6 separate regions of the Homo sapiens genome follow, and regions 2, 3, 4, 5 and 6 are each reported to be linked to region 1. The links are microRNA targets in miRTarBase. Many come from high-throughput screens and were not tested one by one. Region 1 holds a microRNA gene; each other region holds the end of a gene's coding sequence. Distances are between the middles of the regions.

Region 1 (5,093 bases):
CACACTGAACTACAGGCATAAAGCATGAACAAAATATTTTATTACATTAAAAAACTTTCTGATCAACAAAATATAAACAAAAGCATAAATAAATGAGAGAAATCCTGCAACAAATAGAAAAGACAAAGGGTTAAGCAACTAAAGAGTAATAGAGCTCTTAGAAATAAAAAAGACAAAGATAAACACCTCAGGGGGAAAATAAGCAAAGATATGAATATGTAATTTGTGGAAATATAATTAGTTGATAAGCATGAAAAAAACTTCAACTTTGCCAGTACTCACAGAAATGCAAATTAAAATAAAGAAAAGGTATGTATTTTCTTCCTATCAGATTGGTGTCAATTCAAAGCGATAATACTCAGTGAGGCTGAAGCTAGTGCCCTAATTGGTAATGGACAATTGGCGTATTAGCCTTTCTGGAGGCAATTTGACTACATTATTGAAATATTTCAAGATCTTTCCTTTGACTCAGCAAGTCTACTTCCAGGATTTGTCCAAAAGAAATAATGAGGATGGTTTCATAAAGATGCAAGAATAATATGTTAAATGCATTGCACATAATCTTTTTGTTAAAAGTGAACAACCAGAGGGCTGAGGGTCTCTGCCTCCATGCCCACGTCTCAAAATTGCTAACTCCTGTTGATTCCACTGTCTGAAGAGCTCTTCTGTGTCTACTTCTTCCTAGTTGCACTGCCATTTCCTAGTTCAGGCCACCATCACCTTTCACTTGGATTACTGCAACAGCTTCCTACATAGCATCCCATCCCTTTCCGGTTTACTCTCCACCTGGCAGGCAGGATGAGATTTTTAAACACAAATCAAATAACCTCCCACTCCTGATAAAGGTCTTCACTGGCCTCCCATAGCCTTATGTCCAACCTCCTTGACACTTATGGAGAGCTACGGTGATTCCAATGCCTGATTACCTTGCCAGTCTCCTCTCCAGACTGCCAACAGATACACTTCTGAAGCTCAAACGGGCCATGATGATCTCTGGGCATGCTGGTGTTCCCTCTCCTAGAACACAGTTCCTCACACTATTCTACCCTTTCCTAACCTATGTTCCTCACATTCTCCAGGGCTCAGCTTAGCAGGAACTTCCTTAGGGTCAATCTCTCCTGCTTCTCCAGCACTTGAGTGAAATGTAGCTCTTAGGCACCCACTGTCCACAGCATCCTGCACTTACCCAAAACCACAGCACTGGCCACATTATGTGGATTTAACTGTGGGTCATCAGTTTACAGGTGTCTCGGGTCACTTCTATCATTGCATGACCTTTTCAGAGAACACAAAAGCCTTTGCATGCCCAATATCTAGGGCTCCTTTCCTTATTCATACACCAAGACTTTTTTGTTCGTTTGTTTTTGAGACAGTCTCACTCTGTCGTTCAGGCTGGAGTGCAGTGGTGCAATCTGGGCTCACTGCAACCTCCGCCTCCTGGGTTCAAGCGATTCTCCTGCCTCCGCCTCCTGAGTAGCTGGGATTACAGGCACCCACCATCATGCCCGGCTAATTTCTGTATTTTTAGTAGAGACAGGTTTCACCATGTTGGCCAAGCTGGTCTCGAACTCCTGACCTCAGGTGATCTGCCCCCCTCAGCCTCCAAGAGAGCTGGGATTACAGACATGAGCCACCACACCTAAATATTCCTCAAGAAACTGGCTAAATAAATTACACATCTATACAATGGATGTGTACTTTACACATCCATCTACACAATGGATGTATACTACACAACCATAAGAAAAAAAATAAAACATTTACTTGGAAAACATCAGGAAATAGTGTAAGGTTAAAAAAAAAAGAAATAAAAATGCTGAACAATATTCTAGTATGCTGCTACAGTGTATGAAAAAGCAGGCATATGAATATATGTGCTGATTCATGAGTCAAATATCTCTCTGGAAGGACACTGGGAAGGGAAACTGAGTGGGTGAAGTCAAAATGGGGAGAAAGGACTTTCCCTGTATAATCTTTTACTGTTTGGCTTTGTTAGTATATTTCATATTTCAATGATAGCTTACTTTGGATTTTTGTTTAACTAAGTAGTCGTAAGCGTTTTAGACAAAACTCTTTAGAGGAGAAACACAAAGGCTAATCTTCCACCACTCCCAAAATGAAACAAAACAAACACCTTACAATTTCCAGTGCTCTTGAACAAGGCTGTGGAGAGGTGGCAGCGGTGTCTTCCCTGCCCGGTGATGGAGCACGTCACAGGGGAGCACTGCTGCCTTCTCTCTCGGGTCTGCTTTGCTCCTCTTTTGCAGTCCTTCACTCAAATTTCCTGAGCAGCAACCACTGTAAAATACTCCGGCTGTCCAATAATACTTAGGTACGTTTCATTTTCTTAGAGGCAATGTGAAACTATGACAGTTTCTTCTCACAAAGTGGTGCTGGAATCAACCTTAAAGGAAAAGCAAAACTACGAATTTCTACAGCCAAGAGTACTAACTACAAATTCTGCTTTTGTGTCCCATAATATTAGAAAATAAATGAATGGATGAACTAAAGAAAAGAAGAAGAAGGAAAAAAGAAAGAAAATCTTCTCCAACAGACTTCTCCTTTTCCTTTGACTTGGAACAGCCATCATGGCAAGACAGAGTGAGGCTGTTTCTTCTTAATCAGTACTGGGCTACAGAGTCCATCTACAACTAATAAGTTGTAATTCATGCCTTAGATCTGTTTTCCCTGCAGCTAAAAGATACGTTCAAGGGAGTAATATGCTCTGGATCTCCTGTATTTTCTAGCACTGATCAGCTACCGTGCATTATCTACCAGCATATGGCTGTAGAGAGAAGGACCTCTCCAAAAAGAGAACTGCAATGGAGAGAGAGAAAATTCAGCAGAAATCCCAAACAAAATATGGTAATTATGAAACATCTTACTTCTTGTCTTATTACCAAGATGAAAATAAATACCTCCAAACAAAACTGCTAAATTTAACTACCAAGATTTTTAAAAGTACACCCTGAATTCAATATTATCTAAGACATGGAAGAGGACTAATGGTACTCCAAAATGCTTAAGTGAGAAGAAAAAAATTCAATCTAATTGTCTTAGGAAAACATCAGATGAAATAATATGCATGTTATTCCCAAACAAAGGATGTTACTAACCTGAAATAAAGATAGATATTGAAAAGTTAGTCCTTGAGACAATGCGTATGCTAACAGCTGATACTACCTAAACCACATAGCAGAATGGTTTTCAAATCCAGGCCTAAGAAATACATATAAATTCAGATTCAACTAAAAATTAAGAGCTATCCTAATTCTGGCAGCCATAACGAATTACCATAGACTGGTAGCTTAAAACAACATAAATTTGTTTCTCACAGTTCTGAAGGCTGGAAGTGTGAGATCAGGGTGCCAGTGTGGTCGGGTTCTGGTGAGGGCCCTCTCCAGGCTGCAGATGGCCACCTTTTCCTTATATCTTCACATGGCAGAAAGACAGTGAGCTAGCTCTCTGGCCTCTTCTTATAAGGGCACTAATCCCATTCATGAGGGCTCCTCCTTCATGACCTAATTATCTCAAATCATCACACTGGGGATTGTATCTCAATGTATGAATTTTGCAGGGATACAAACATGCAATCATAAGTTTATTCTATGTCAGAACTTAGTGTCTTACCTATACAAGATGCTTTCATATCCAACATCTCATCAAGTTCTTAAAATAACCTTGTCAGGGAGGTGTTATTCTCATTGCAAGGGAGAAAACTGAACCTTAAAAAAAGAGACTTGCCTGGGGTCATTCACGTAATAAATGGCAGCAACCGAACTGGAACCTGGACCCTCAGACTCTAAGACCAATGCATGTTCTCTATAAATAATATTTGTGAGGTTTTCTTTTCTATCCCTTAAAGGCAACAGTTGTTAGTTAAACTTCATTTAGACAGAACATTGACAATGCAACCAGGTTATTCTGTCTGCTGATAAAGAAAGTCTCTATTTAAATTGTTTTTATAGGAACAGAACATTTACGTGCTTTTTTTCTAAGGGAGAGGAGAGAATGAAATGGGAAGAGAAAAAGACTAAAATGAGATCAAATACAAATAAGCATTTAATTGTTCCTCTTCTATTTCATACATCTTTTTCTAATTCAAGTCACTTAAATATAGTCAATAGCTTTTGTGCTTACATATGTGCCAGACACGGATCTAAGTACAATCTGGGTTCCTACTCTCAAAGATCTCAGAATGTAGCAGAAGAGCCAGACCTTCAAATAAAATTTTACCACAAAGTTTCATGAGCATTAGAGTTAAAAAAAAAAATAAATGGCAATCCAGAGGAAGAAGTGAATGCATCTTCCTGGGAAGGAGGTTCAGAGAGGAATGGCTTGCCAAGGATGTAGTATTTGGGCTGAGGAATGGGAACTGGCCAGCAGGAAGCATTATCTTCCAAGCAGAAGGCATTGGAGTTACAGATATGGATCCTACCCTACTACCTGCCTTTACAGAGGAAAAAATAGAAGACTGACATGCCTAGAATATCATCTTGGAAAATGGAGTAGTCAAATGTACACGGGAGTTAGCAAAACGGGAGATAAAGATGGTGCCAAGATTTCTTGCTTGTGTCATAAAGAATGTCATTAATGGACATAGGAACTCATGCAGGAGCAGCAGACTTAAGGAGAAAATCATGAATAACATTTGGGACATGCTGGAGTTCAGGTGCTTGTAGGAGAGCTCCACAAAGCATAAGAAAATAAGCGACTTGAGATTAGGAGGGATGATGGGGTTCACAGAACTGAGGAGTCATCCCTTAGGGAGTTTACAGAAGTATCACTTGTTTACTACTCTAGGTTCAATTTCTTAGAGACGAACAGAGGCTGAAGAAGGCTGTATCACAAGAAACAACTCTGATTTGTGGTAAAACCCTAGGAGTTTAAGAAAACAGTACACTACAACTCTTTCATTTATAGCAGTTCTGATCAAAACAGAGATATAATCAGCAAAGGTCCTATTCATACATTGGTTGGACTATAGATCTACAGATAGAATAAATAACAATTAGGAGACTTTCAAACACAGCTGTTCCCAATACTGGTTCTTCCCTGCAGTATTTGAGGGAGGGCCATTGTTTTCTCTCAGC
Region 2 (5,093 bases), not on the chromosome of region 1:
ACCAAAATTCTCACTGTCCCCCGAGCAAGGCCTGCTTTGGTACATTTTTGCCCCCACCTTTCCCTCTGTCTGAAATGTCCTTTGCCTGTCCGTTCACTCAGCATCTTCCGAGAACCAGTTCAAAGGTCCTGTCCTCTGGGAAGCTTTGTGGGATCCCCTGACACTGGGCCTCTTTTCTGGGCTTTCGGCGCCTTGTGCAAACACCCATTCCATCACATATGACGCTGTTTAGTAATTGGGTTTCATGTCTGGCTTCCTCACCAGCATGGAAGCTCCACAAAGCAGCAGCCTGGTCACCTTTTCTCTTCCAAGTGCCCAGAACAGCCCCTGGATGCTAACAGGGGCGCCGTAAAGGTTTGTCAAATTACCACCGACTTTATTGAGTGCTTTGTTCTTCCAGGTTCTAAGTGCTTTAGATACATGATTTCCCTTAATCCTTACAACCACCCTCCGAAGTAGGTGGTATAAACCCATTTGGAAGATGAGAAAAGCAAGGCTTAGGGAGGTTAAACCACCTGCCTCAAGTTGACAAGTAAGAGGCACAAAGAGCCTTTGAGACCACAGAGCCGGGACTCCTAATGGCCTCAAGACAGAAAGAGCCAAGGGAAGAAGCAGGGGAAAGTGGCCAGATAGGATGGGCAGCTCTTCATCCTGTGGAAGCAGCAGCACCTGCGTCTCAGAGCCTCTCTAATTTGTCATTGGGATGGGAGGTTCTGGTGGAGAGGGGTGGCCTTGTGGCCTTCTGGCCTTTGCTGCTCCTCCACCCTGACCTCCCCATCCCCGCCCCGCAGCCCATGCAGGTGCTGTTTTCCGGTGAGGCCACCCACCGCAAGTACTATTCCACCACCCACGGTGCTCTGCTGTCCGGCCAGCGTGAGGCTGCCCGCCTCATTGAGATGTACCGAGACCTCTTCCAGCAGGGGACCTGAGGGCTGTCCTCGCTGCTGAGAAGAGCCACTAACTCGTGACCTCCAGCCTGCCCCTTGCTGCCGTGTGCTCCTGCCTTCCTGATCCTCTGTAGAAAGGATTTTTATCTTCTGTAGAGCTAGCCGCCCTGACTGCCTTCAGACCTGGCCCTGTAGCTTTTCTTTTTCTCCAGGCTGGGCCGTGAGCAGGTGGGCCGTTGAGTTACCTCTGTGCTGGATCCCGTGCCCCCACTTGCCTACCCTCTGTCCTGCCTTGTTATTGTAAGTGCCTTCAATACTTTGCATTTTGGGATAATAAAAAAGGCTCCCTCCCCTGCCCCTCAGCTTCTCTCTGGTTTTCTCAGCCTCTGTGTATGTGTGTGTGTTTATTTCTGTCACACCGCCTTTGAGTGAGAGGGAGAAGGTTGGGGAGCCCTGGCCTGGCTGTGTCCCCAGAGGGAAGGTGCTGCTTTTACTGGAAGGGATGTCCCCTCCCCCCATCTGTTGGGGTGTTTACCTTCCTGCCAGTAAGGCCCCTCAGGAATACGGGCCTCTCAGTGTACACCTGCTCCTTCAGGTCTGGCCTGAGTCTGCTTGCTGGCCCTTTTTTTTGCTGGACTTCTCTGAGTTTAACTGAGTGACACACTGCCTGGAGTGAAGGAGTTCTGTGGGGGGGACCCCCAGTGGTGGTGGCTCCATGCCAAGCCTAGGTATGTTCATTGTTTTTTTTTTTTTTTTTTTTTTTTTTTGAGACGGAGTCTCGCTCTGTCGCCCAGGCTGGAGTGCAATGGCGCAATCTCGGCTCACTGCAACCTCTGCCTCCTGGGTTCAAGCAGTTCTCTGCCTCAGCCTCCTGAGTAGCTGGGATTACAGGCGCCCGCCACCACGCCTGGATAATTTTTGTATTTTTAGTATTTTTGTAGTTTCACCATCTTGGCCAGGCTGGTCTTGAACTCCTGACCTCAGGTGATCTACCCGCCTTGGCCTCCCAAAGTGCTGGGATTACAGGGGTGAGCCACCGCACCTGGCTTGTTCATTGTTAATTAGCGTCACCTGTCCACTGGGCTGTGGGTCTGGCCCCTGGGGTGGCCTTCTTTTGAACCTCTGGGCAGATGGTCATTCTGGGCTTTATTTTTTGACAGGGGGAATATCCTAAGGCCTGCCATTTATTGGGGAATAGATTTTTCTTCTCGTCAGCTGGGTTCAGTGCTCCCAACACTTTGGGAGGCTAAGGTGGCAGGATCACTTGAGCCCAGGAGTCTGAGGCTGCAGTGAGCCATGATTGCACCACTGCACTCCAGCTTGGGTGACAGAGTGAGACCCTGTCTCAGAAAAATAAAAGAAGGTGTTATTTGTAATCCTTTACATGTAAGCTGTCAAGCTTCTCAGTATTAAGGAATAATTCACACACCAAATATAAAGCAATCAATACTTTCCTTTACATACTAGGCATCTAGAAAAGGGTCCTAGGCTGGACATGGTGGCTTATGCCTGTAATCCCACCAATTTGGGAGGCTGAGGCAGGAGGATTGCTTGAGCCTGGGAACTTGAAACCAGCCTGGGCAACACAGTGAGACCCCATCTCTACAGATGTCTTTTAAAAAAGAAAAACTTCTTTTTCTTCTCTTTTTGCTGAGTAAAAAGACACATCTACCCCCTTATATATACTCACCCACATATATAGGTACACATACCTACATATACTCACCACTACACCTTACACATAACCCACATGACATATACAGGTACACACACCTACATACACTCACCTCTCTACCCTACACATATACCTACCTACATACACACACACACAGAACCTTAAAGAACAGTCATTTTGTTACTCCACATTTCTAGTGATGAAATTTGAATTCAGATCCACATGGCTCTGTCCATGTGGTTTAAGCCCAAAAGCTATATAAGAATACACTAAAATGTCCCCATTCACACTGTCCCCAGTCATCTTAAAGAACAGTTAGTCATTTTGTTATCCTAGATTTCTAGTGATGAAATTTGAATTCTACAGAGTTGAAGGGTGGGGTGATGGGGAGAAGTTATGAAGAGCTTAGGTCAGGTCCCCTTCATGGACATTTAGGGCCCTGCCCTTGACAGGACATGACAGCCCCTTCCTCCTCCCAGGTGATTGATTGATTGATTGAAATAGCATCTCACTCTGTTGCCCAGGCTGGAGACAGCGGTGCGATCATGGCTCACTGCAGCCTCAGACTCCTGGGCTTAAATGATCCTCCTTACTCAGGAGTGGCTGGGACTACAGGCATGTGCCACCATGCCTGGCTAATTTTTATTTTTATTTTTTTGTAGAGAGAGTGTCTCATTATATTGCCCAGGCTGGTAGGTTGTGATGGAGATGTCTAACACACAGACACACGTACACACATGCTTACCTGCATCCACTTACGCACACACACCTACATGCACAAACCTCACAGACATTTTGCTTTGCCAGGGTTGATCTGCCAGAAATCTTCATGGAGCTTATATCAAGGGATTCATACCCACCTGCTGGCATAACTGAAAAATGTCTAAATATATATATGAATTTTTTTTTTTTTTGAGACGGAGTTTCACTCAGTTGCTTAGGCTGGAGTGCAGTGGCATGATCCCGGCTCACTGCAACCTCCACCTCCCAGGCTCAAGCGATTCTCCTGCCTCAGCTTCCCGAGTAGCTGGGATTAAGGCACGAACCACCATGCCCAGCTAATTTTTCTATTTTAAATAGAGTTGGGGTTTTGCTATATTGGCCAGACTGGTCTCAAACTCCTGACCTCAGGTGATCCACCCGCCTCGGACTCCCAAGGTGTTGGGATTACAGGCGTAGCCACTATGCCCAGCCTATATATGAAAAATTGTCTGAATAGATGATCTGTTCATGTAGTTTAAGCCCAAAAGCTGTCCACGTGGATACAATACACTGAAATGTTCCCTCTCACAGTGTCCCCAGTCACTGTTGCCTCTCCCACAGCCCTAGGGGTATCCATTCCTAGATGTAAGTCAATATAAAAACACTCTTCTCCCTCCTTTTTATACAAAAGCACCAAAGTATTCATCTTGTCCTGATTTTGCTTGTTTTAGTTAACAATATGTCCTGTAGGCTGGGCGCGGTGGCTCACACCTGTAGTCCCAGCACCTTGAGAGGCCAAGGCGGGTGGATCACCTGAGGTCAGGAGTTCAAGACAAGCCTGGCCAACATGGTGAAACCCTGTCTCTACTAAAAGTACAAAAAATAAGCCGGGTGTGGTGATGCATACCTGTAATCCCAGCTACTCGGGAGGCTGAGGCAGGAGAATTGCTTGAACCCAGGAGGTGGAGGTTGCAGCGAGCCGAGATCGCGCCATTGAACTCCAGCCTGGGCAACAAGAGTGAAACTCTGTCTCAAAAACAAACAGAAAAACAAATAAAAAATCAAAAAAACCCACAATATGTCTTGGACATCTTTCTGTAATGGTACATAAGCAGACAATGTAAATTTGGACCTTACTTTGGTCAAAGCATGTCTGTCTCCTCCCTGGCCCAGGGTCACTTTATGGAAGCCACCTTCTATTACCTGTTACCTTCCATGACTCATAGTCTGCTGTCTGCTTCTGACTCCTCAGTTGTTGGATTTCCCCATCCACTGCAGTGGGATGGAGACAAGCAGCCCCATCACATAAGTATCGGGGAAGAAAGTGATAAATAGGTTCTCAGTGTATAGGCAGAGGAATTTTAAAGGACTCCATGGTGGGGTGAAAGGTCTGGAAATGTTTACTTGGTGACTGCACTTCAGGGAGCTTCATGGGTGGGTAAGAGGGAGGGAGAGAATATTCACTTAGTGCCAATTGCCTGGCACTATGCCATGTGAATGTGATACTGATTTGACAGTGATGCCAACTCAGGCTTTATTTATTCCTGTGGGCAAGTGAAACCTCAGAGAAGTTAAGTAACTTGCCCAGGGTTGCTCAGAGGTGCCGAGACATGAGCTGAAGTCTGTCTGACTGCGTGGTGTAGGCTCGTTCTATTGTATGATGAAAAGAAGAGGCTGGTGCCACCAAAAAAGCTTAAGGCCATTGCTGGAGAGAGTGGGTGTGGTACGACCACACTGGGGGACTGTGGCGGAGTCAGCTAAAACTGGCCATGTGCTTGCCAGCGTTCCCACCCCTGGGTATACACCCAAGAGAAAGGCGTGCAGGTGCT
Region 3 (5,093 bases), not on the chromosome of region 1:
TGCTTTGGTGCAGGAGATACACAATGTATGTCAACTCTGACAGACACTGTTAGAGGTGCCCATTATCCAATTCTCATCTTCCTAACAGAATCTCAAAATGTTAATTTGGCCCATGACAACCCAGATAGAATATTACGTCCCATCCAGCTTCATGGCTAGTGGGACCAAGCAACTGTTTGAAATTGAAGTTTATGTATTGTGTGTAACTTCCAAGAAGTGTTCTTGGGGGTGGGGGAGGTAATGCCCTCTACCAGCTGGCTCAGATGCCGATAGGAAGTTTCTAGCTAGAGCAGCTGTCTTCAAGTAAGAACTGAAAGCCACATGTTGGCCAGGTGTGGTGGCTCACACCTGTAACACCAGCACTTTGGGAGGCCAAGGCAGGAGGATCACTTAAGCCCTGGACTTCAAGGCCAGCCTGGGCAACATAGCAATGACCTCATCTCTACCAAAAAAAAAAAAAAAAAATTTAGCCAGGCATGGTGGTGTGTACCTGTAGTCCCAGGTACTCTGGAGGCTGAGGCTAAAGTGGGAGAATATAGCTCGAGCCCGGGAGTTCCAGGCTGAAGTGAGCCAGAAGTGTGCCACTGCACTCCAGCCTGGGCAACAGAGTGAGACCCTATCTCATTAAAAGAAAAAAAAAAAAAGCTACAGGTTGAGAATGGGGAGGAACAATATAGAAAGAACCCGGATCCCTGACCCTGCATAATGTCATATGGGCTCTGGATTGCCTTCCCAAACTTTAATATGAAAGAGAAACAATCTTTTTTTTGTTTCTAATTTTTTTTTTTTTTTTTTGTCGAGATGGGGGTCTCTCTATTGCTCAGGATGGTTTCAAACTCCTGGGCTCAAACAATCCTCCCGCGTTGGCCTCCCAAAGAGCTTGGATTACAGGCATGAGCCACCATGCCCAGCTGAGAAGCAAACTTCTATCTTGTACAAGCAATTGCTGTTTGGGGACACAGCCAACCTCATACATATGAACTAATGCATGCCAAGTTTTAATTTCCTTAACTGAAAAGGCTGATGCAAATGACATATTGCACCTGGTGGCAGGCAGCTACATCTACTGCTAAAATGACATAAGATAGAAGAAGTTTTCTGTAGAGAACATTGTGTGTCACAAACAGTGACATTTTCAAAAGTGCTTAATTCAATATGACTTCCCAGCGGCAAAGCTTGCACCTATGGTTTTAGGAAAACAACAACAAAAAGTTTAGTCTAGCTTAAGATGCAAAATGACTGACAAAGTCCCTCCCCACAAGAGAACTGTAACGAGCAATTTAAACAAATCAAAAATGGTTTGTTTTATTTACAATACTCAATGCATCTTATGAGTAACATATTTGCATTCCCTAAGTCTTTTGGAAAGTAATTCCAGTTTGTGCAGTGAGTTTACAGGAAAATCTTAAAGATATCTAGTAGACATCTTAAACCTAAACTCTAAATTTTGAAAGATATTTCACACTATATTAATAGAGGACTGTTTTTAATTAAGAAAAACTAAACTCTGTAAATATTGCCCTCCAGTATCTTTAATGCAAATATAAACCAGATTAGCCTATGAAATAAGACCACTAGATTTGGGTGAATTATTCTGACCTCCCCTCCCCAATAAAATGCATGCATAAAGTAAACATGGTAAATTACATCAATCACATTTTAATACTTTTTTTTTTGGACTCTCTCAACTGTTGTTTGCTCAATTGTCGGTACAGATAGGTAGGATTCCAGTCTGGAGAAACCCCTAAACCACTACACCCTGCCTCAGAGTAGGGAAGAATTTTCAGTATGTATGTGGAGACAGGCTGGATTAGGGAGCCTTTTGAGTGGCTTCTCTAGGATACCTTTCTTGCTAACATGAGCAAGGTTCCCCTCCAGGCCTGATAAAGCCTGAAGAGGTTAGTTATTTCCCTACTAGTTCTGGAAGCATCTTATTCATGCCACCATAGGAGGCTGTCTTCCCCTGCTCCTCCCTGAATCACCACCTAGATTTTAGTGCTTTCTGAGTTGATGATGGAAACCAGTTCCTGTTCAGGTGCCAGAAACTTTTTTTTTTTTGAGATTGAGTCTCGCTCTTTCATGCTGGAGTGCAGTGGTGCGATCTCAGCTCACTGCAACCTCCACCCCCCGGGTTCAAGCGATTCTCTGCCTCAACCTCCTGAGTAGCTGGGATTACAGGCGCCCACTACCACACCCATCTACTTTTTGCAAATTTTGTAGAGATGGGGTTTCACCATATTGGCCAGGCTGGTCTCAAACTCCTGACCTCAGGTGATCCACCTGCCTCAGCCTCCCAAAGTGCTAGGATTACAGGCGTGAGCCACCGTGCCAGAAACTGTTTTTATGTCACATAAAGATCTATGAAACAAGGTAAAAGGTAATTAAAATACTTTGTGACAGAGTTTGCACCTCATGCATGTGAAAGAGAATGTAATTAATTTTATCATTTATATAGCTGCCATCTTTTTTTTTTTTTTGAGACGGAGTCTCCTTCTGTTGCCCAGGCTGGAGTGCAGTGGCACGATCTTGGCTTTGCAAACTCCGTCTCCTGGGTTCAAATGATTCTCTGCCTTAGCCTCCTGAGTAGCTGGGATTACAGGAGCCCACCACCACACCCAGCTAATTTTTTTTTTTGTATTTTTAGTAAAGATGGGGTTTCACCCTCTTGGCCAGGCTGGTCTTGAACTCCTGACCTCGTGATCCACCTGCCTCGGCCTCCCAAAGTGCTGGGATTACAGACGTGAGCCACTGCACCCGGCCAGCTGCCATCTCTTAAAACAAAATCCAAGTCCTAGCTCTTGAGCCATAAAGAAGAAATAGAGGTATCTCTATACTGGATCCACCTCAACTTAGCAACGCATCTCTGCATCTCCACAATGCCATTCTCCTCAAAACATCTGCTGTCTTTAACATCTGGCATAGGTGGTAGAATGGGGAGATACTAGGCTGCAGAAATAAAATCCAACGTTTGACAAAGCCAACAGAATTTTGAGATAAAGAAATGGTGAGGTAGAGTTGAGAGAGTTCAATTATATTGTTGAGCACAGACCATTTGGCACATTCTAAAATTAGATTCCCTATCAACTTCTCCTTTGTGGTACCTTTACAAAATGCTGACACCTTAGGAATCCTCCAACACCTATGTAAAGCTAACAGAATAAAGTCATTTGAAGAAATTCATCCTTGGCTCTTTAGCTATTATCTACCCCCATATTGAAGCAAATAAAAAACAATGCTATCCATTTGCTGAATTTATTTAAACAAGTCAATTTAGAAATACCATAGAATTAAACAAAACTTCTGACATGTAAACATACTGCCATGTTCCTGAAACAGATGTTAACACCTGATAAAAGTTAATAATCTCTTGTTAGGAAAGCTGTCCATTAATAAGGCCAGTCTTCAGCAAAACTAAAACCATTTTGTTCGTTTAGCTTTCCTAGTCTGACAACGCAATACTGTTGAACCACAGTCAAATATAATGACAACATTGGATGGATAGATCAGTACCATTGGTTACAGCTGTTAAACAGGTTCGTTCTTGGCGCCACATAAAAACAAGCCAATCACATCGAATAAATCATGGCTTTTTTTTCTTTATCACAATTCACTAAGTGATGTTAATTATGGTCCTTGTCAAACACGTTTGGTAAAGGCTATTTACAGTGTACATGGCTGAGCATGCACTATTTATAGTTACAAAGATACCTGCCAGTTTATTACAATAGAATTACACAGTGCCTGAAAATGGTGAAACATCTCACACATCATTTAAATCAATATAATTTCAAGCAGGAAACGTTCCTTATTTGACCACAATTGCAATAATTACATGAAAATTCTTATAAAAACATGAATCTCCTTCAAGAAATTGATGCATATTCTACGCACTACAGGTTAAGGCAGTAAAAAAATGTATTCCTGATAACTGGAGGTGTTGACAATGTCAATTAAAGCTGTCTGACTCTAGTTTTTCATTCTCCATCATATACCAAAAGTTTGTGAATGATTTCATTTTTAAAGTCAACAAAGTATTAGTAACTAAGAAGAGTTGAAGCTGGAAAAAAGTAATTGCTAGGGAAGGGAAAAATGTAAATTGGATTTTGCCTGAAAGTTTTCAAATCATAAACAATAGCATTATTTATGAGTCTAAGCCTTAAATGTATAAAACAAATACATATAGTTCACTTTTCTTAATTTAAAATATACTGTACTTTGAACAATTCAAGTAATGTAAGACTATCAAAAATAACTTCATAAGCCATACACAAGTGTCAACTGCATTTTCAGTATTTTAAGAACTTTTTAAAAATTGTAAACTAAACCATGACAGTTTAGTTAAACAAATGATAAATGACTTTTTATTTGCACTTGTGATTTCTTTAATACAAATTGCTACCAACAAATATGTAAAGATATGGCAGGTTATGCATTTGATCAAAGCACTTTGATTTAAGCATAAAACAGATTCAAATGGTACAAGTTCTGTGCATAAGATCCAAGGAATTGCTTACTAATCTGTAGGCAACCCTCTTTCTAATCAGAATCCTTTATTCCTCGGCTGCAGATGAGATAGGGCACAATCTGTTGTAAACAGGGCACTGTTGTTAAACCAGGATAATATTCTTAAATTAAGATCGTTCTTGTTCTATTAAAAAGACTTTCCCAAGTGTCTTCCATCACTGAGTATATTCTGCTGACCTCTTAATTTCATAAATTAACTTTCTTTTGATTCCATTTTTATGGTGGTGTCCGCAGTTTTGTTTTAAAAATTGGTTTAAATTTATATAAAACTCTGTACATGTTCACAAATTATTGCATAAACAGCATAATCTTCAAGACAAGTGTTTGCAAACACATGTCCAATTCAGGAAAAAAAATTTCACGTTTCTCGTCTGGCTTTTTTCTTCTTTTTTATTTGTTTGGGAGATTCCCAGCTAGTTTCAGACTTGGCTAAAAAAGAAAAGGGGGAAAACGAAGAAAAAAATTAGGAGGATGGTAAATACTGTTACGTCTCAATAATATAAAAGTAGTAACTATGAAACAATGTTTTAAAATACTCAAATTTTATGTTTAAGTTTTCAAGCCCTCGT
Region 4 (5,093 bases), not on the chromosome of region 1:
ACATCCTGCCTCCCCAAGCTCATCTTGCCCCACTCCATCTGCCTCTCCGTGCTCCTGTCCTCCTCTCCCCAGGTCTGCCAGACCCTGTGGCCAGACCGCTCCGCAGGGAGGGAAACTTCAGAGGACCCTGCTCCCTAGCTCTCAGTGCCCATAGAAATGGGGCACTCCCCCCTCCCCACTGCATTCCTCAGCATCTCCTCAGTCCTCCATTGGTGGGCAAGGGTGGGGTAGGTGGGATGGTTCCTGCCTGTTTAATCAGAAGCTGGCCCCTCCAGCTTACCCTGCCCCACCCCCAGTGCTGATCTGGAAAATGGACAAAACCCAGTGCTGATCTGGAAAATGGTCAGCGGTAGGGTGAGCACTCTGGGCTGTGTTTTCCAGAGCCTTTCCCTCCAGGGCAGGAGGACTGGGCACAGCCAGGAGCCTCCCCCCACACTGCAGCTCACGAACCCCTCCCTACCCACCTGCTCCTAGGTGGGCTTCATGCCTGCCCTAGAGGAGGAAACGGGCTGGGGAGTGGAAGGGTGCGCTTCCTCTGGTGGCCTGCCCTCACCAACCCTGACCCTTGCCTTGGTTTGTATTGCAGAGTTTGATAAATTCCTTGAAGAAAGAGCCAAAGCTGCTGAAATGGTTCCCGACCTCCCCTCGCCCCCCATGGAGGCTCCTGCCCCAGCCTCAAACCCTTCTGGCCGGAAGAAGCCAGAGCGGTCAGAGGATGCCCTCTTCGCCCTGTGAGCAGCTCTGTGGTTTGCCTCCCCAGATGGCGGGTCCCCGCTCGCACCCCGTGGACACCGGGCACTGGCCACTCCTACATCCCCAGCTCCACACGGCCTGCACACCTGTGTTTCCATGGAAATGCCACCGTGTCTGCTCCCAGGCCTCCCACTAGTCAGGACCAGCTTCAGCCACTTCTTTTCTCTGAGTGGTGGGACAACTGCAGCCAGAGACTCTCTCCCCTCCCACCATGGGCCCCTCTGCCCATGTTTCCTCCCAGGAAGAGCGGGCAGAGTGGCCCAGCCCCAGGCAGTGCTTCCTGAGCAGACCACCCGGACTGTCTTTCCTCCACCCGCCCATGGAGAAAGAGCACGCCCGGCCCCGCCCTGTGCTCACCTCTGCCTGGCTCAGCGACCTTCTCAGGCATTCTGCCCTCCTGGGCCCCTCTCTCCCTGAAGGGGCTTTGTGGCATCTCTGGAAGAGCAGGGTGTGCTGCACTCATGGGCCTGGTCTCACTCCTTGGACTTGTCACCTTGTGACATTTGGCTTATCAGCATTTGAGAAGGCTCTGCTGGGTCTCCATGGTGGGGGTCTCTCACCTTCTTGACCCTCTCTCCATCATTCAGCTGCCAGCCCAGGCTTCACACCCAAGCTGGCTCAGCAGCCGAGCCTGGCACCGAGGGTCCCTGCAGGCTCCCTGGGCAGGGAGAGGGCCAAGGACAATTGGGAGGGCAGCAGGCAGCCCGCAGATGGTGGCCATGTGGCACGCTGCTGAGACGACACTACCAATAAACCAAACTGCCACGCACACACTGCAGGCTCACACCCGCACACCTGGTCCTGGCTTGTGGAGGGACTTGCACTGGAGGTATTGCTCTGGCTTGCCTGGGGAAGTGTCACAGATGTGCACATGGGCCACACTCAGTGCTGTGGCCTGGCCTGCCGTAGCCTCACACATCTGCCTCAAGAGCCAGCAGCAAACAGCTTTGTGGCATCCTTGGAGGTTCCCAGTGACTGAGAGGCCTGGGCAGCACTAAGGCCCCTGCTCTGCTCCCTGGCATAGGCCTTGGCCTCCTTGCACAGACTCTCCTGACAGTCTGGCCTCCTCCCACCTCAGAGGTCCTCTGGCCACCAATTTATACTCTCTCCCCAAGCTGATCCTGAAGGCAGGCAGAGCAGCTAGGGGCTGGTAACATGTATTCCCATCCCGTGTCCTCACTGGTGTGTCTCCTGGCCATGGGCAAGGGACTCGGGTCATCCCAGGCCCTGGTCCAGCCAGACACCTGGCCCCACACCTCCCACCAGGCTGCTGTTGCTCAGAAGGAGAATACTGCAGCTGTATGCATCCCCGTGTGTCTTGGGCCCAGCTCGCTGGGTCAGTCTGCTCCTGTCCCCTCCAGCATGCACTGCCTAGGTCAGCACAGGTTCCTGATCCATGGTGTAGTTAGCCCTTCCCACCTGGCAGGACGGCCCAGACCACCAGCCAAGCAGGGAAAGGGGGCTGGGCTTGACGGGAGAAGAGACCAGCGACATGGTCGTTGGGGAGCATTCAGGATGGCGACTTCAGCTGGGGGTCATGCTGAGCACCAACAGGAACTATTCCAGTGAAGAGCAAGTGCTGCCCGACCCAGGACCCTGTGCCAGGCTAGCAGCCCTCCAGCTCCCTCCAGAGAGGAAACCTCTGTCTGGCTGAGGGTGGGACTAGCTGGGATGTCTCACTCCAGTTGCTCAGGTTCACCCAGGAAGCTCCTCCGTGGAGTGGCCAGCCTGATTCTAGCCCTGTCCTCTCTGGCAGCACATGCCACACCTGCCTGGGCCTTCTGCTCCCTGATGCTTGATGAGCCCCTGCCTCCTCAATGTTTCTCAAAGACAGACCCCCCTGAGGCCAGCTTGAATGTGAAGACTGCTGAAGTTAGCTGGCTTCACTTGAGCTGCAGAAAAGGTGGCTGGGATGGCCCAGGTGCACCCAGAGGCCCCAGCCCTTTGGCTGCCTTTGGGTTGTGACTTGGGTTGTCTCTGAGGCCCTGCCAGAGCTGGGCCTGCGGGTGGTGGGCGGTCCGACCTCGGGCAGTCAGTGCTCCGCAGCCTCAGCACTGCATCCCAGACCCAGTGTCCTCAGAGGGAAGAGCCAGCCTCCCTGCCTCATGGAACCAGGAGTCCCAAAAAGTCAGGAGCCTGGAGGCTCTGAAAGGAGCAGGGATTCCATAGTGCGTGAAGCTGAAATAGGCGCCCTCCTGGGGAGCCCCCAGCAAAACTGTTTTTCATACCCACTCCCAGAACTGCCCCGCTCCAGCTCCAGCGCCAGCGCCAGCTGGTTGCCAGGCATCATTGGAGAGGCCTGGCTGCCCCAGGGGCAGCAGGGAGTGGTGGACCTGTATGGGCTGGCAGGAGGCCATTGGCCATGCTGACAAGTGTCACCTGCCTTCCTAGCCTGGAGCCACCCCTCAGGTGGCCTGCTTGCACCTCCTATCCGGAGGTAGCCTGCCCCACCTGTAGGCAGAGGGGGCTCTTGCTTGAGGCCTGCACAGGAAGCAAGTATAGCCCCGGTGCCCCAGAGTGGGTTCCACTTAGCCCTGGCGAGATGGCCTGTCCTGAGATCTCTGCTCCCAGACCCCACCATCTGGGGAGCACAGTCCTTAGGCTGCCTGGTCCAGGAAGGGGGTGCGGCTCTGTCAGGAAACCTGGACTCTCAAGGCCCACCAGCCTCTCCGTGAGTGTTAGAAATCACAGATACAGTATATACTTAATTACACTAAATTATTGCTGGGATTCCTTATAAGCACTAATTATACCTGATTATAGGTTAAAATATTTATTTTGTCAAAATATTTTCTTGGGAATGTGTTTAACCCTTTCTGCGTTCATTGTTGCTGAGATGTGAAAACTAACCATTCCCTCCTGCCTACCTTTTTGGCCACTGGGCGGCAGAGAATGGCGCTATGTGCAGTTGGGCCCCTGGCACCATGGGCCTTTGGCCTGCCTGCTGCAGAGTAGCCCTGCCTGGGCAGTCTCCAGGCACTGAGCAGGCCATCTGTGGCCAGGCTGAGAGAATGACTGGCTCGCTTACCAGCGTGCATGGGACAAGGAGCTTTGGAGCCTCAAGGGGTTGTTGCTGGCCTGGGCTAGAGGGAAAGGTGACCATCCGTCTGTCCTCCTGTCTTTCTATTAGCGCCTCCATGTGAGTGATGGTGCCTTGGTTCACTAGCCTTCCCCCACCACCCCACCATGCCACCTGGTGGTCTTGGGGCCTGTGCTGTCACTCCAGCCCCTGGGGAGGAGAGGACCCAGCCCGGAGAGTTGGGGCAAGGGCTCCACATGGCCCAAGGGCAACAGATGCTCGCAGGGCAGCTGCTGCCGATGCTCACGCTCCTGCCCCCCTCCTTCCCGCTGCCACACCCCACCCTGGGCCCCCGCAGACACGCATCTCTAACTCAGTTGGGCCCAGCCTTCTGGATGGCTTGGGGTAGGCCATGGGCCCACCTGGGGCCAGGCCAGCCCCTGGGGCAGCTCTGGAAGAGCAGTGTGGAGGAGCACTTGCTTGCAGCCTGGCTTCAGCCTCTGGCACTGCTGGAGTGGTCCCTGGGAGCTTCTGCACTGTCGGCTTTGGGGACGTCTCACCCACTTGGGTTACAGTAGGCCTTCCCCACCCAGAGAGAAGTGTTTCCACCCCAGAGACATTGTCTGTCAGCCCCTGAAGTGCTCGCCTCCCCCAGTGCCCGTCACCAGCCCTTCCTATCTGTGGGGTCCAAGTCAGGCTTCCCCTGCGGCCACCAGCCATAGGGAGCAGCCATCAGCCCCCGAGTCAGAACTGCTTCTGTCTGTCCATACCTCCAGGCTCTCCCGGAGAGGGGGACGGATATTTATTTCCTAAAGTTTGCACTTAATTGTGAGGATTCTCAGGATTGTTGGGGGCTACTGAAAAGAGGAATGTGTTGAATGTCGCGTTTGCTGTCCACTCGTCCTAGAAGTTTAGTGTTTTTGTCACTGTCATGTGTTTCTGTGGGCAGAGCTGGTTCTGGAGGGTGGGTCAGTGCACCCGAGGCTCAGAGCATCCATCCACCCCACTGGCCCTCCTTCCAGATACCCTCTCTCTAATTGGGTTCTTGCATGTAAAATACTCCACAATAAATAAATAATTGAACAAATTATGCCTGTGTGGTCTGTTGAATTGGCTACGACTGTCCAAAGGGCTTGCCAGTTTTGACCACCTGCTTTATTTAAGCAGGGGTGGCCATGGGGACCCTCAGTCCACCCTTCCCCAGTGGCCAGGCTGCCTGAGCAGCCCCTTACCTGGCCAGGAAAATTCCTGTGCGTGGCCCAGGTTGTGACATCGGTGGGAGTGGCTGTAAGCCTGCTACAACCTGCCTGAGAGCTCTAGG
Region 5 (5,093 bases), not on the chromosome of region 1:
CCGTCCGAGGGGGTGACATGACTTTCCTTTTTCTAACTCTTCCTTCTCCACCAACCTCTTCCGTCCAAAGACCTTGAATCTGACCTGCACGGTGTTTGGAAACCCTGACCCCGAAGTGATTTGGTTCAAGAACGACCAGGACATCCAGCTCAGCGAGCACTTCTCGGTGAAGGTGGAGCAGGCCAAGTACGTCAGCATGACCATCAAAGGCGTGACCTCCGAGGACTCGGGCAAGTACAGCATCAACATCAAGAATAAGTATGGCGGGGAGAAGATCGACGTGACAGTGAGCGTGTACAAACACGGGGAGAAGATCCCGGACATGGCCCCGCCCCAGCAAGCCAAGCCCAAGCTCATCCCCGCGTCTGCCTCAGCGGCAGGCCAGTGAAGGCGTTTTCCTAGCCTGGAGATGGGAAAATATGCTTGGCAGAGACAGGAATGCTGTGTGCTTGTTCCAAATGAGCAGCTGGCATCCGAGTGGTGTCCTGTGTGGGCTGATAGTTGATCACACATTGTGCTTTTGATTTTTGCATTTGGTGATGAATATTTTATACCCGTCTAAGGGAGAAAGCTAATGTTTTCCACAAGACTGAACAACGTGTATTTACACGAGGGTAGACGGCAGATGCCTGACAGAGAGTGGGTTGGCAGACAACACACTAGAATTTTCACGGGTGTGGGCACATGGGTGTGGCACCTGGACGTGTGCAGCATGTGGCGGTCTGTGTGAAGCCACCGTGCTTCTCTTTGGGGGGCCGCGAGATCTAGCATCTCTGAAATCCTGGCTGTCGAGGCTTTGAAGCATGTGTTACCTGGTTAAGCTTGTTTTCTCTTGCTTTAGGCAAATAAAAGTTTAAAAATCACCTTGTTGTGGTTTTCCTGTACCAAATCACACCTACCTGCCCCTGCTCACCCCCTGGCTTGTTTAATTATGGGTTATCATGCACTTTCACGGCTGGTGGGGTGCAGATAGTGCACTCACCCTCCAGAGAGCAGGGCATGGTGAATCACACCCCCAAAGCCCCTCCGACCCACGGGGCTGGGCTGCTGGCCCCCAGCGGCACCCAAGACGGCACCAGTCCTAAGAAGTGTGCGTTTTGTGCAAGGCTTAGAAAGGCCACCTAGTGATTATACCACGGATCTAAAAGTCTCTGTAGAGGAAAATGAAATGCAAAGATGGCTCTGTTCTTTTTTAGTGTGCTAATGAATTAGGAAGGGATTTCAAAAGAAAGAAGGCACTCATTCAGAATGATCACTGCAGTAGCCATGGAGGAAAAATAAAAACTTGGCTGCCTACACAAGGCCTCTTGGTGAAGTTAAAAAACGTGTTTAGGAGGAACATACCCTCTCTTTGAACTTTTTCCTCCTTTGTTTGGAAAGAGGCTGAAATTCTTCTGGCATAAAAATCCCATTTCAATATTTTAGTTTTATTGTTGCTTTATAACAGAAAAAGCTTTGATAATTAAGAATGTTTTACCTTTCTGTGTCATTAAGGGCAATCCAAATTTTACGAGAATTTGTTATATTTTTCTAAGGTAATAATACAAATCCTGAGAATTAAATATGTCCCCAGTAACATAAAGCTGGCTGAGCTGGTTTCCATGGCAGTAAAGTGAGTATCAGCAAGAATTTTATTTTTGTTATTTCTCCCTTTTCTGTCGTGCAGATGAACTTGAGCGGAGTTTGTTCTTATTGCGTGGTGGCAGCCGCGTTTTCCAAAGCGTGCTTGGCAAGGGTAGGCGCAGACAGTCTCAGTTTGACCTTGATTTAGTTAAACAGATTTTGTTTATTTTCCAGTTTAAACAGTCATTTTTGTTTAGCAATCGTGGTTCATGGGAAATAATTCAAATGGTTGTGAATTTCTTGAAGCCATATATACTATTTTTAATAGACCTCCTTTTTGAGCAGTTTTAGGTTCACAGCAAAGTTAAAAGGAAGGTAGAGATCTCCACTCCAACCCCTACCCCCACCACAGCTTCCCCCGCTACCAACACCTCCCACCAGAGGGATGTGCTTGTTACAACCGCTGCACCCACACTGACACGTCACCATCCTCGCAGGCTGGAGTTTACCCTGGGCTCGCTTCTGGCGCTTGTTACAACTGCTGCACCCACACTGAAGCGTCAGCATTGCCGGGGGCTGGAGTTTACCCTGGGCACACTCCTGGTGCTGTTGGCTCTGTGGGTTTGGTCGGGTGATCAGGACTCAGGTCCACCATTGTAGCATCATGCACAGTCTTTTCTCTGCCCTAAAAATCTTCCCTTCAACCACTGAGCATTTTACTGCCTCCATAGTTTTGAGTTATAATATTTTTTAAAAGACTTTTTTTTTAAAAGAATGAAATAGTCTTAGACATGCAGTAAAGTGTCTTTACAACGGCGCAGAGAGCCCAGTGGACTCCACAGTCTTCCTGTTGTTCACGTCTCGCGTTGCTGTGGGGCGAGACGATGGCCTCACCTCCGGGTGGCCTTCAGACCTCGCTGGGTTCCCCCAGTGCCCTCTCTCTGTCCCAGGACCCATCGAGGACACCAGATGAATTTGCTGTTCACGTCTCCCAGCCCCTCCGTCCTGCGATGGTTTCTGTCTGTCCTTGCCTTTCATGACCTTAGTGGCTTTGAGGAGTTTTGCTGGTTATCTTGTAGGATGTTCCCCAATCCAGGTCCCCAGTCCAGGGAAGACGATCTTCGTGTGATGAGACTGGGGATGTGTGCTTTTGGGAAGAGGAGTCATGTGGGGTGCCCGACATCCGCTAACCTTCATCACTTGCTCAGGTGATGTCTGCCTGCTGTCTCCCATGAAATGCCTGCTTTTTCCTCTTCTCCTTCTATTCCTTGGGAGCCTGTCTCAGCCCAGACCACCCTCAAAGAAGCAAGAGCATGGAATCACGTTCACCTCTTGGAGCAGGAGCATCTACCTCTGTTATTTGCAATTCTTCTGGAAGAAAGATTGTCTCCTCTCCCTATTTATTTATTTATCCCATCATTTACTGACATCTGTATGGACTCTTGTGCTGTATTTCAGCTCTGGGATGTGACCCATGTTTCGCCATGCATTTTCTTTCTTTTCTTTCTTTTTTTTTTTTTTTTGAGACACAGTCTCCCTTTGTTGCTCAGGCTGGAGTGCAGTGGCACGATCTCGGCTCACTGCAACCTCTGCTTCCCAGGTTCAAGCAGTTCTTCTGCCTCAGGCTCCTGAGTACCTGGGATTACAGGCACCTGCCACCATGCCCAGCTAATTTTTGTATATTTAGTAGAGATGGGGTTTCACCATGTTGGCCAGGCTGTTCTTGAACTCCTGACCTCAGGTGATCCACCTGCCTTGGCCTCCCAAAGTGCTGGGATTACAGGCGTGAGCCACCGCGCCCAGCCTACTTTCTTGCTCAGGTTTTTCCAGTGTTGGCCACAGGGAGCCCTTTCTGCCGGCCTCCGGGGTCTGTTCACAGCTGCCTCTTTGGGCACAGCCTGGTTTTCTGGCACTGCAGGACACCCAGGCTCATCTGTGCGTTCCCTGCTCCAGTCCTAGACCCATTTCTCCAAGGACCCCTGGTTCCTTTTACTGGAGGGTGGGATTAGAAGCCAAGATCTGGGTGCCGCTGTGTTTATGCAAATGAATATCTCAAGATATGTGATGCCAGTCGGATCACCCCTACTCCCTCAGGGCAGAATGCGGAGAACTGAGCACCTGGAAAGACATCGAGGTCGCCCACTGCCTGTGCCTGGAAGTCCTGGGCTTGCCCCTCTTGGAGGAAGTCAGGGTTCCGCCCTTTCGTCGCTTTTTAAGAATCCGTGCATGTGGCAGTGGAGGCAGCGAATGCTCAGCACGGAGAGGGCCGTGGTTGGAGCTCTTCGCCTGAGTCGTTTCATTTGACAGCTGTGAGGATGACACAAAACAAGGAACGGGAAGACACCAGGAGGGTACAGAGTCATTTGCCGAGGTATTGATTCTGTGAAAAAATTAAATTTTCCTAGAGCCATTTGGAAATGCATTTCATACGTTGTCGGCATCCCACTTCTCTGTCCCTTAGTGCTTTGGTTTTTTCCCAAGAACAAGGAGCAGAGTGTTCCCTTGTGTTTCCACAGCACAGCTCTTAAAGTCAAGGGACCCGACCGTCACACAGCAGCGTGATCTGCAGTCCATATGCTAACCTTGCCAGTCATCCCGATAATGTCCCTGGAGGCGTTCCCCAGCTGGAGTCCAGGATGCGGTTTGGGCTCACGTGTTGGGTTTAGTTGCCACAGCTTTACTTCTCTGGAAGACCCTTCTTGGTCATTAGTGACGCGGGTAATTTTGGAGAGCCCAGGCCAGCTGTTCCACAGAGCAGTTCTCCTTCCGGGACCTGCCCAGGGGTCTCCTGACTCCATCGGGGCTGCACGTCCTGGGTGTGTGATGGCATGTGTATTCTGAGAGCTCAGTTACAGAAAGAATGAGTTTGACATTCACAGGATTATGAAATACGGGGCTTCGGGGTGGAAGTGAGGCTTTTTAAATAAATCAAATAGCTGCTAAAAATGACTATCAGTTCAACAGCTTCTGTGGCCACCTCTTGAGAATCGTTAGATAAAAATTGCTGGTGCCCAGCTGAAGAAGTTATCTTCCTGGGAGATGCTGAGCCCAAGAGAGTAAAGGTTGTGTCTGTGGGAGTGTAAATGGTGGAAATTTGACTCAGCATGAAAAAAAACAATAGTTCCTCAAACTAACAATGTTAGGAGTCATTGGCTTCCAAAATGGAGTCAAGGGCTAACAAGAGTGAGACAAACATTTTTTGCAGACTAACTCATTCCTGCTTATTACCTGGAGAATGTGCTAGTGTGTTCAGCTCATATGAGACATAGAAGGATTTTGCATTTTACAAAAGTAAGTAAAACTGCCCATAGACTAATTTTTATGCTTGATTTTAGCCAAAGGGAGAGAAGTGATCATATCCCATTTTTAAGAAATAATTTTGAAGCCAATTAATTTCTTTCAACTCTACCTTCTCAGGCCAGAATGAAATTGTGTAAGGTTAGAAAATGAGCCCAAGACCCCGTACTGGGAACCACGTTATTTTTCAAGCCTCGGAAGGACATGTTGGAGGAAGTGCTGCTTCGTGCAGA
Region 6 (5,093 bases), 120 Mb from region 1:
TCCTCCTACTGGTGGAGTTGGGCTGTCCACCAACTCCGAAGGGGTAAAGATGGGACACACTCATGAGAGTAAATCCACACGCATTCCCCTAATCTCCATTCTGCTGAAAGGCTGATGGGAAGGGAGCCTCCAGGCAGAACTGAGTCAGGGGTACGATATATTCCTTCATCCCCACTCTGCTTGCCATGGCTAGGGGATTAGGAAGGGGGGAGAGGGTACAGGGACTGGATCTCTCATGCTTCTGGTGATTTTCAGAAAGCCATTTAAAGGCAAGAACTTAAGGTGAACTATAATGACCTTTGACAACATCTAGCTGCCATATTCCATCCCCAGCCCCACACCACACCAGTTAGGAACATCCCTGAGTGGCCCCTCCAGGTCTCAGTTATCTCCAGACTAAAAGATGCTCAGAAAGCCAGCACAGTCCTGGGACCAATCCAAAGAGGAACAAAGGCCAAGATTAGGTAAATTGCCCTTGCCCGGGAATCTCACTCTTCTTCAAGTCCAACTTCACTAATTACCTTTCCTTTTAAAGCTTATAAAGGTTCCAGAACACCCTCCAATCTGCTGCCACCTCAAGGAAGCCATCTTTGATTAGAAGAGACATTGAGGCCAGGAGTTTGAGAACAGACTGGCCAACATGGTGAAACCTCATCTCTACTAAAAATTAGCCAGGAGTGGTCCCACAGGCCTGTAATCCCAGCTACTTGGGGAGGCTAAGGCAGAAGAATCACTTGAACCCGGGAGGCAGAGGTTGCAGTGAGCCGAGACGGCACCACTGCCACTCCAGCCTGGGCGACAGAGTGAGACTCTGTCTCGACAAAACAAAAAAACCCTTGAAACAATATATTCAAGTCAACAGAACATGGCCATGTGCCTCACACATCAGCATCATGGGAACACTGGCACTTCAGAGGCCAGTGGAAAAGTGGCAGTCCCGTTGGGGCTGCATGGCTGGCAGCTGACCACAAGCCCACACAGCGCTTAGGAGTCAAGTGCAGCAGTGATGGAGCTCACACTACTGAGAGAGCAGGGAAACCACACTGAAAGGGCACGTTTCTTAACCTCAGAATGGGGCTACTAGCCTCTAAAGCAGGAATTGCGTTTTGTTTAGTATTTCCATGGTCTGCTGCAAGGCGTGGCCTTTACCCAATGGATAAATGCGTACAAGGCTCTTGTGAGCAGTCAAGTTTCTCGAGGTTTACAGTTGAAGGGAAGTGGGATTGTTTTCCTGCGCATTTAAATGAAGGTAGGTGGGTGATCACCTTTCCTTAAATGTGTGAAGGGATGAGATAAAGAGATAGGCATCTTAATTGCCACTGATGGCCTTCAGGTGAGGACAGGCATGAGCCAACTGAAGCTTTGACAATTGTGCTGAACCCAAAACTTCAAAAACAAGAAAAAACATAGACTGGCTGAAATGATCTAAGTCAACAGAGCATGGCCAGCGCTTCATACAAGGCAGGACCACAGGGGAACACTGACAGCCCAGGAGGCACTGAGACAGAGGCAGTGGGAAGAAGTGACAGACCCCAGGGACTCCCCACCAACAGCAGCTGCTGTTGATTAGGAACCCCCAGTAGACTGTCAGGCACCTGGTAGTGGAGAGGCTACCAAGGCCCGGACTGGAGAGGAGCCAAAGGAAGAAACAGTGCAGTGCTTAGACCCCTCTGGGTCTGCCCGTGTCCATACCCACTAGGGAGATTCCATTCCAGAAGTGGACATATTCACCAACAGAGTGCCTGGGGCTCACTCATCACAGCTGCCCCTCCATGAGGGCATCTCACTGCAGCCTTAGCAGGGAACAGGGTCATTTGCATTAGGCAGCTGCTGTCCTAGGAGGTCTCGGTGTCCATACACTGCCATGTTCCCAAGGTGTTTCAAGCTCAAAAGTCTCATCTATGTCATACAGTCGTGCCTAGTTGGCCCGTCTCCAAGACCTGACATCCATCCTTCTACTCTGGCCACACCTGCCCATCTCATGAAATGGGCCTACTTTAGTCAAATGCCCTCAGGGCCACAAAAGGGCACCACCTGAGTGGAGAGAGCACATTTGACCTCCCATCAAAACCCTTCCCAGTTCCCAAAGACTAGTCACCATGACCTCATCCTGGCCCAAAGCCACAAGAACGGAATGCCTGCTACTAGTACAGGAGTAAGAAGCAAGGTCAGAGTTCCCATGCCTGCTGACTTGACCCTGTCAGAAAAACTCAGCAGGGTGTGTGCCCCAAGAGACTTTAAAAACAAAGTAAAGGCACACGTGACACTCCAGGCCAGATCATCTCTAGGGGTGCCATGCGACTGACAAAAGACTTATTAAGCATGCAGATTCCTGAGGCAATACCAGACTTGCTATTGAATCAAATTGTCTGAGAGTAGGGTCCTCAAATCAGTTTAACAAGCATCGCAGGTAATTCTGATGCCCACTAACATTTGAGACCAGTGTTCCAGATAGAATTATCCTTTTTTGGAAGACCTTCTTTAGGCCTTGAATCAAACTCAAACTTGCAGCCCTTCTTCAGTCACTTTTTCTGGTGTGCTGCTTCCTCCAATAAAGTAAGATATTAACCAGAAAAAAATAAAAGAGGCTGAGAGGGACACATGCCTCTAACAGAAGCATCAAGCCACTGACTTTTATTCCCATGAGCTCCTACTATGATGACATAACATGTCACATTTATTGCTCTTACCTACTTCCTAAGTTACTGCTTGCCTAATAAGGAAAAGGGCAAGAAATAAGAGTCCAAAAGACACTCAGAACACCAGCAGCAGCTTTCAAGTAAGGACTCAGGGTCAGGGTCTCACAACTCCTCCATTTCATGTTTCATTTACATTGTCTTCGTGCTCCAGCAGCAAGGCTGACATGTGCTTTGGGGTAGGAGCCTGGAGTATTTCTGCCAGATGGTCTGAGGTGACGTATACTCCTAGAGCCCAAGTGACCACCAGAAGGGACATGTGAGACAGCAGGCAGAGGCCATACATGGAGGATCACACTCCCTCAGACGTCATCAGCCCCATGCTTTATCCTTTGACTCCCCCTGATCCTCAAGGCCAGGTGGGGTGCCCCTGCTGCATGCTCCAGAGAACTGTGGGCCTCTCCTACCATGGCTCTCAATGCACTGTTCCATAACTGGCTTCTCCCCTGGACAGAGCCACCCTGGTCTCCTTGTAAGCTTTAGTTGGGCTTGTCCCTGAGTGTGTGGGGTAGGAATAGGAGTGTGTTCTTGTGTATGTTGCAATCTTTAGGCTCAGGAGACAAGGAGTTAGACCTGAGTCCTGACATGTGCACTCATTTGTACTCACCATTACATTCTATTTAATTGCTTTGAGCCAGACAGGCTGTTTTCTTTACCATGAAATATACTAATCATTCAAAAAAGCCTTGTGTTTAAGAAGACAGCAAAAAACATCACTTCAAAAAGGCAACTTTTTTTTTTTCTTGGCATCAATGAATATGCACTTCAGAAATCTACAGAGAACTTTTTTCACTTTGTATTTGTTCCACAGCATTCTAGCCAGGAGTACAAAATAGGAGCTCTTCAAGCAGCACATGAAGATGGCCCAGGAGCCTTCAGCCATCCAGAGCAGCAGAGCAGCACCTAAATCTCCACACACTTCCCAGTATAACCACTAAGAACACACTAGACCCTTGGCATTAGGGGATTTATCATTTCCAGTTCTATTATCTGGGAATGACTCCAAGGGTTTGTGACAAGCTTTTGAAACGTAAGTGCTAAGACGAGTGTGGACAAGTCACTGAGCTAATGAAGAATAGACCCACTGTCTGCTTGGCTCTGCTATTTTGTACCTGTCTTCACATGTGGGGAAACTTCATAACTGTGCCCACAAATCAGAGAAATTCGCAAAGGACTAGACAATGTATTGCCTGTGAACTTCAGAGGCAACTGGAAATAGTGCAACTGGAAATCAACTAGCTTCATACATAGGCGGATTTGTTTCCAGGGACCAAAAGCACAGAAGATAAGAAAACTTTTCAGGTGATGGCCATATTCTCATCATATCCTCTCTGTGTGGAGTCTGCCTGTTGTCACAAAAACCTTGACCCTACATCAAGTTACACCTTAACAAAGGGAAGATACAGGCATCAGATAAAAGGTACTTGTTTGAAAGGCAGCCATAAGGGAGAACTGAACTTAAAAAAAAAAAAAAAAAAAATTCCAAGCTGGTTTCAACAGTACTTTGTTTCCAGAACAAAGAAATGTTTCTAACCACATCTTGTACCCCTTCCTCATCAACTCCAGACTACCACAGACCTTTTTCCAAAACTGTGTGTCACACATCCAGGTCTTGTGCTTTAGAGCTGCCTCTCAGGCAATTTTAGCCAGCCATTTCTCCAAGTCCTGGATGTCAGCAGAGCCCACGTCCCCTCTTCCACCCTTGGCACTGCACTCCAGGAACTCCACTTTGAGGGGCAACTGTGAGAATTCAAACTCTTTGCCTTTCTTCCCCAGCTGAGCAGGGGCAGTGCTGGAACTGTCCAGTGTGCTGGGGGCAGCAGAACGGGTAACTCGTAAGGTGTTGCTGTGGGGCAAAAGGAAAGAAGTCAGGAGGCAAAATTTTTATACAGCAATTAAATCATATTAGTTTCTAAACATTTCAGCACTCATTTAAAACTTAACTATAGAATTGCCAATTATGCTATTAAGATTGTTGAATAATCCTTTGCATTTATAAGTCCCTCTCTTGGACAGAGAGGTGAGGTAGGTGGGGCGGGCTGGGGGGGTCAGACCTCACAGGGCTAGAAGGCAGGTCAGCAGTAGACCAGGTCACACCAACTTTCTTTCAGCCCAAGGCCCCCTTCTAAGAGGATCTACTGAATGAAGCCGTCTAAAAATATATTTTTAAAATACATGCTTTAAGTGTTATAAAAACATAAGTTTCTGAAAGTTAAGTGTGGGTAGATAGGGTATGTATTTTTATCTTGAGTCTATTTGGATATGGAGTTTAGAAATCCACCAACTCCAGATTCTCATATCTAACTAGGGCAGAATTACTATTATCCAACCTCTTTAACCACCAAAACCTTCCCAATGTAAGTCCCCTTACTGCCACCTGCTGGCCCTAATAAAGGG

Evidence for each region. Region 1 holds the annotated microRNA hsa-miR-3714 (GAAGGCAGCAGUGCUCCCCUGU, at 2,214-2,235, opposite strand). A microRNA usually pairs through its seed, bases 2 to 8, with sites in the 3' UTR of a target mRNA and lowers its output. Matches are read on the target gene's strand: a 7mer-m8 pairs with bases 2 to 8, a 7mer-A1 pairs with bases 2 to 7 and ends in A, and an 8mer does both.
Region 2: the mRNA of SMOX is a reported target of hsa-miR-3714. Seed matches in the 3' UTR shown: 7mer-m8 at 1,000-1,006, 7mer-m8 at 1,059-1,065 and 7mer-m8 at 1,175-1,181.
Region 3: miRTarBase lists MTDH as a target of hsa-miR-3714. Seed matches in the 3' UTR shown: 8mer at 3,899-3,906 and 7mer-m8 at 375-381.
Region 4: the mRNA of TOM1L2 is a reported target of hsa-miR-3714. Seed matches in the 3' UTR shown: 7mer-m8 at 2,702-2,708 and 7mer-m8 at 3,133-3,139.
Region 5: miRTarBase lists MYOM2 as a target of hsa-miR-3714. The part of its 3' UTR that is shown has no 7-base or 8-base seed match.
Region 6: the mRNA of SRPRB is a reported target of hsa-miR-3714. Seed matches in the 3' UTR shown: 7mer-m8 at 4,129-4,135.

Annotation. Positions count from the first base shown.
Region 1 is chr3:16,930,338-16,935,430 of GRCh38, reverse strand. It overlaps MIR3714 (microRNA 3714), which reads right to left and starts at 2,235; the gene lies at 2,171-2,235. All of the region lies in intron 1 of PLCL2 (phospholipase C like 2), which reads right to left.
Region 2 is chr20:4,186,479-4,191,571 of GRCh38, forward strand. SMOX (spermine oxidase) reads left to right here. Exons shown (of 7, transcript NM_175839.3): 7 at 792-1,249. The coding sequence ends at 929. Among named protein-coding and RNA genes, the nearest start is that of LINC01433, 4.1 kb to the right of the region's middle.
Region 3 is chr8:97,724,460-97,729,552 of GRCh38, reverse strand. It overlaps MTDH (metadherin), which reads right to left. Exons shown (of 12, transcript NM_178812.4): 12 at 1-4,953. The coding sequence ends at 4,883. Among named protein-coding and RNA genes, the nearest start is that of LAPTM4B, 49 kb to the left of the region's middle.
Region 4 is chr17:17,843,277-17,848,369 of GRCh38, reverse strand. TOM1L2 (target of myb1 like 2 membrane trafficking protein) reads left to right here. Exons shown (of 15, transcript NM_001082968.2): 15 at 587-4,859. The coding sequence ends at 735. Among named protein-coding and RNA genes, the nearest start is that of SREBF1, 8.8 kb to the right of the region's middle. RefSeq lists an enhancer at 3,583-4,103.
Region 5 is chr8:2,144,594-2,149,686 of GRCh38, forward strand. MYOM2 (myomesin 2) reads left to right here. Exons shown (of 37, transcript NM_003970.4): 37 at 71-863. The coding sequence ends at 388. Among named protein-coding and RNA genes, the nearest start is that of MIR7160, 71 kb to the left of the region's middle.
Region 6 is chr3:133,819,002-133,824,094 of GRCh38, reverse strand. It overlaps SRPRB (SRP receptor subunit beta), which reads right to left. Exons shown (of 7, transcript NM_001379313.1): 7 at 2,603-4,542. The coding sequence ends at 4,329. Among named protein-coding and RNA genes, the nearest start is that of SRPRB, 16 kb to the right of the region's middle.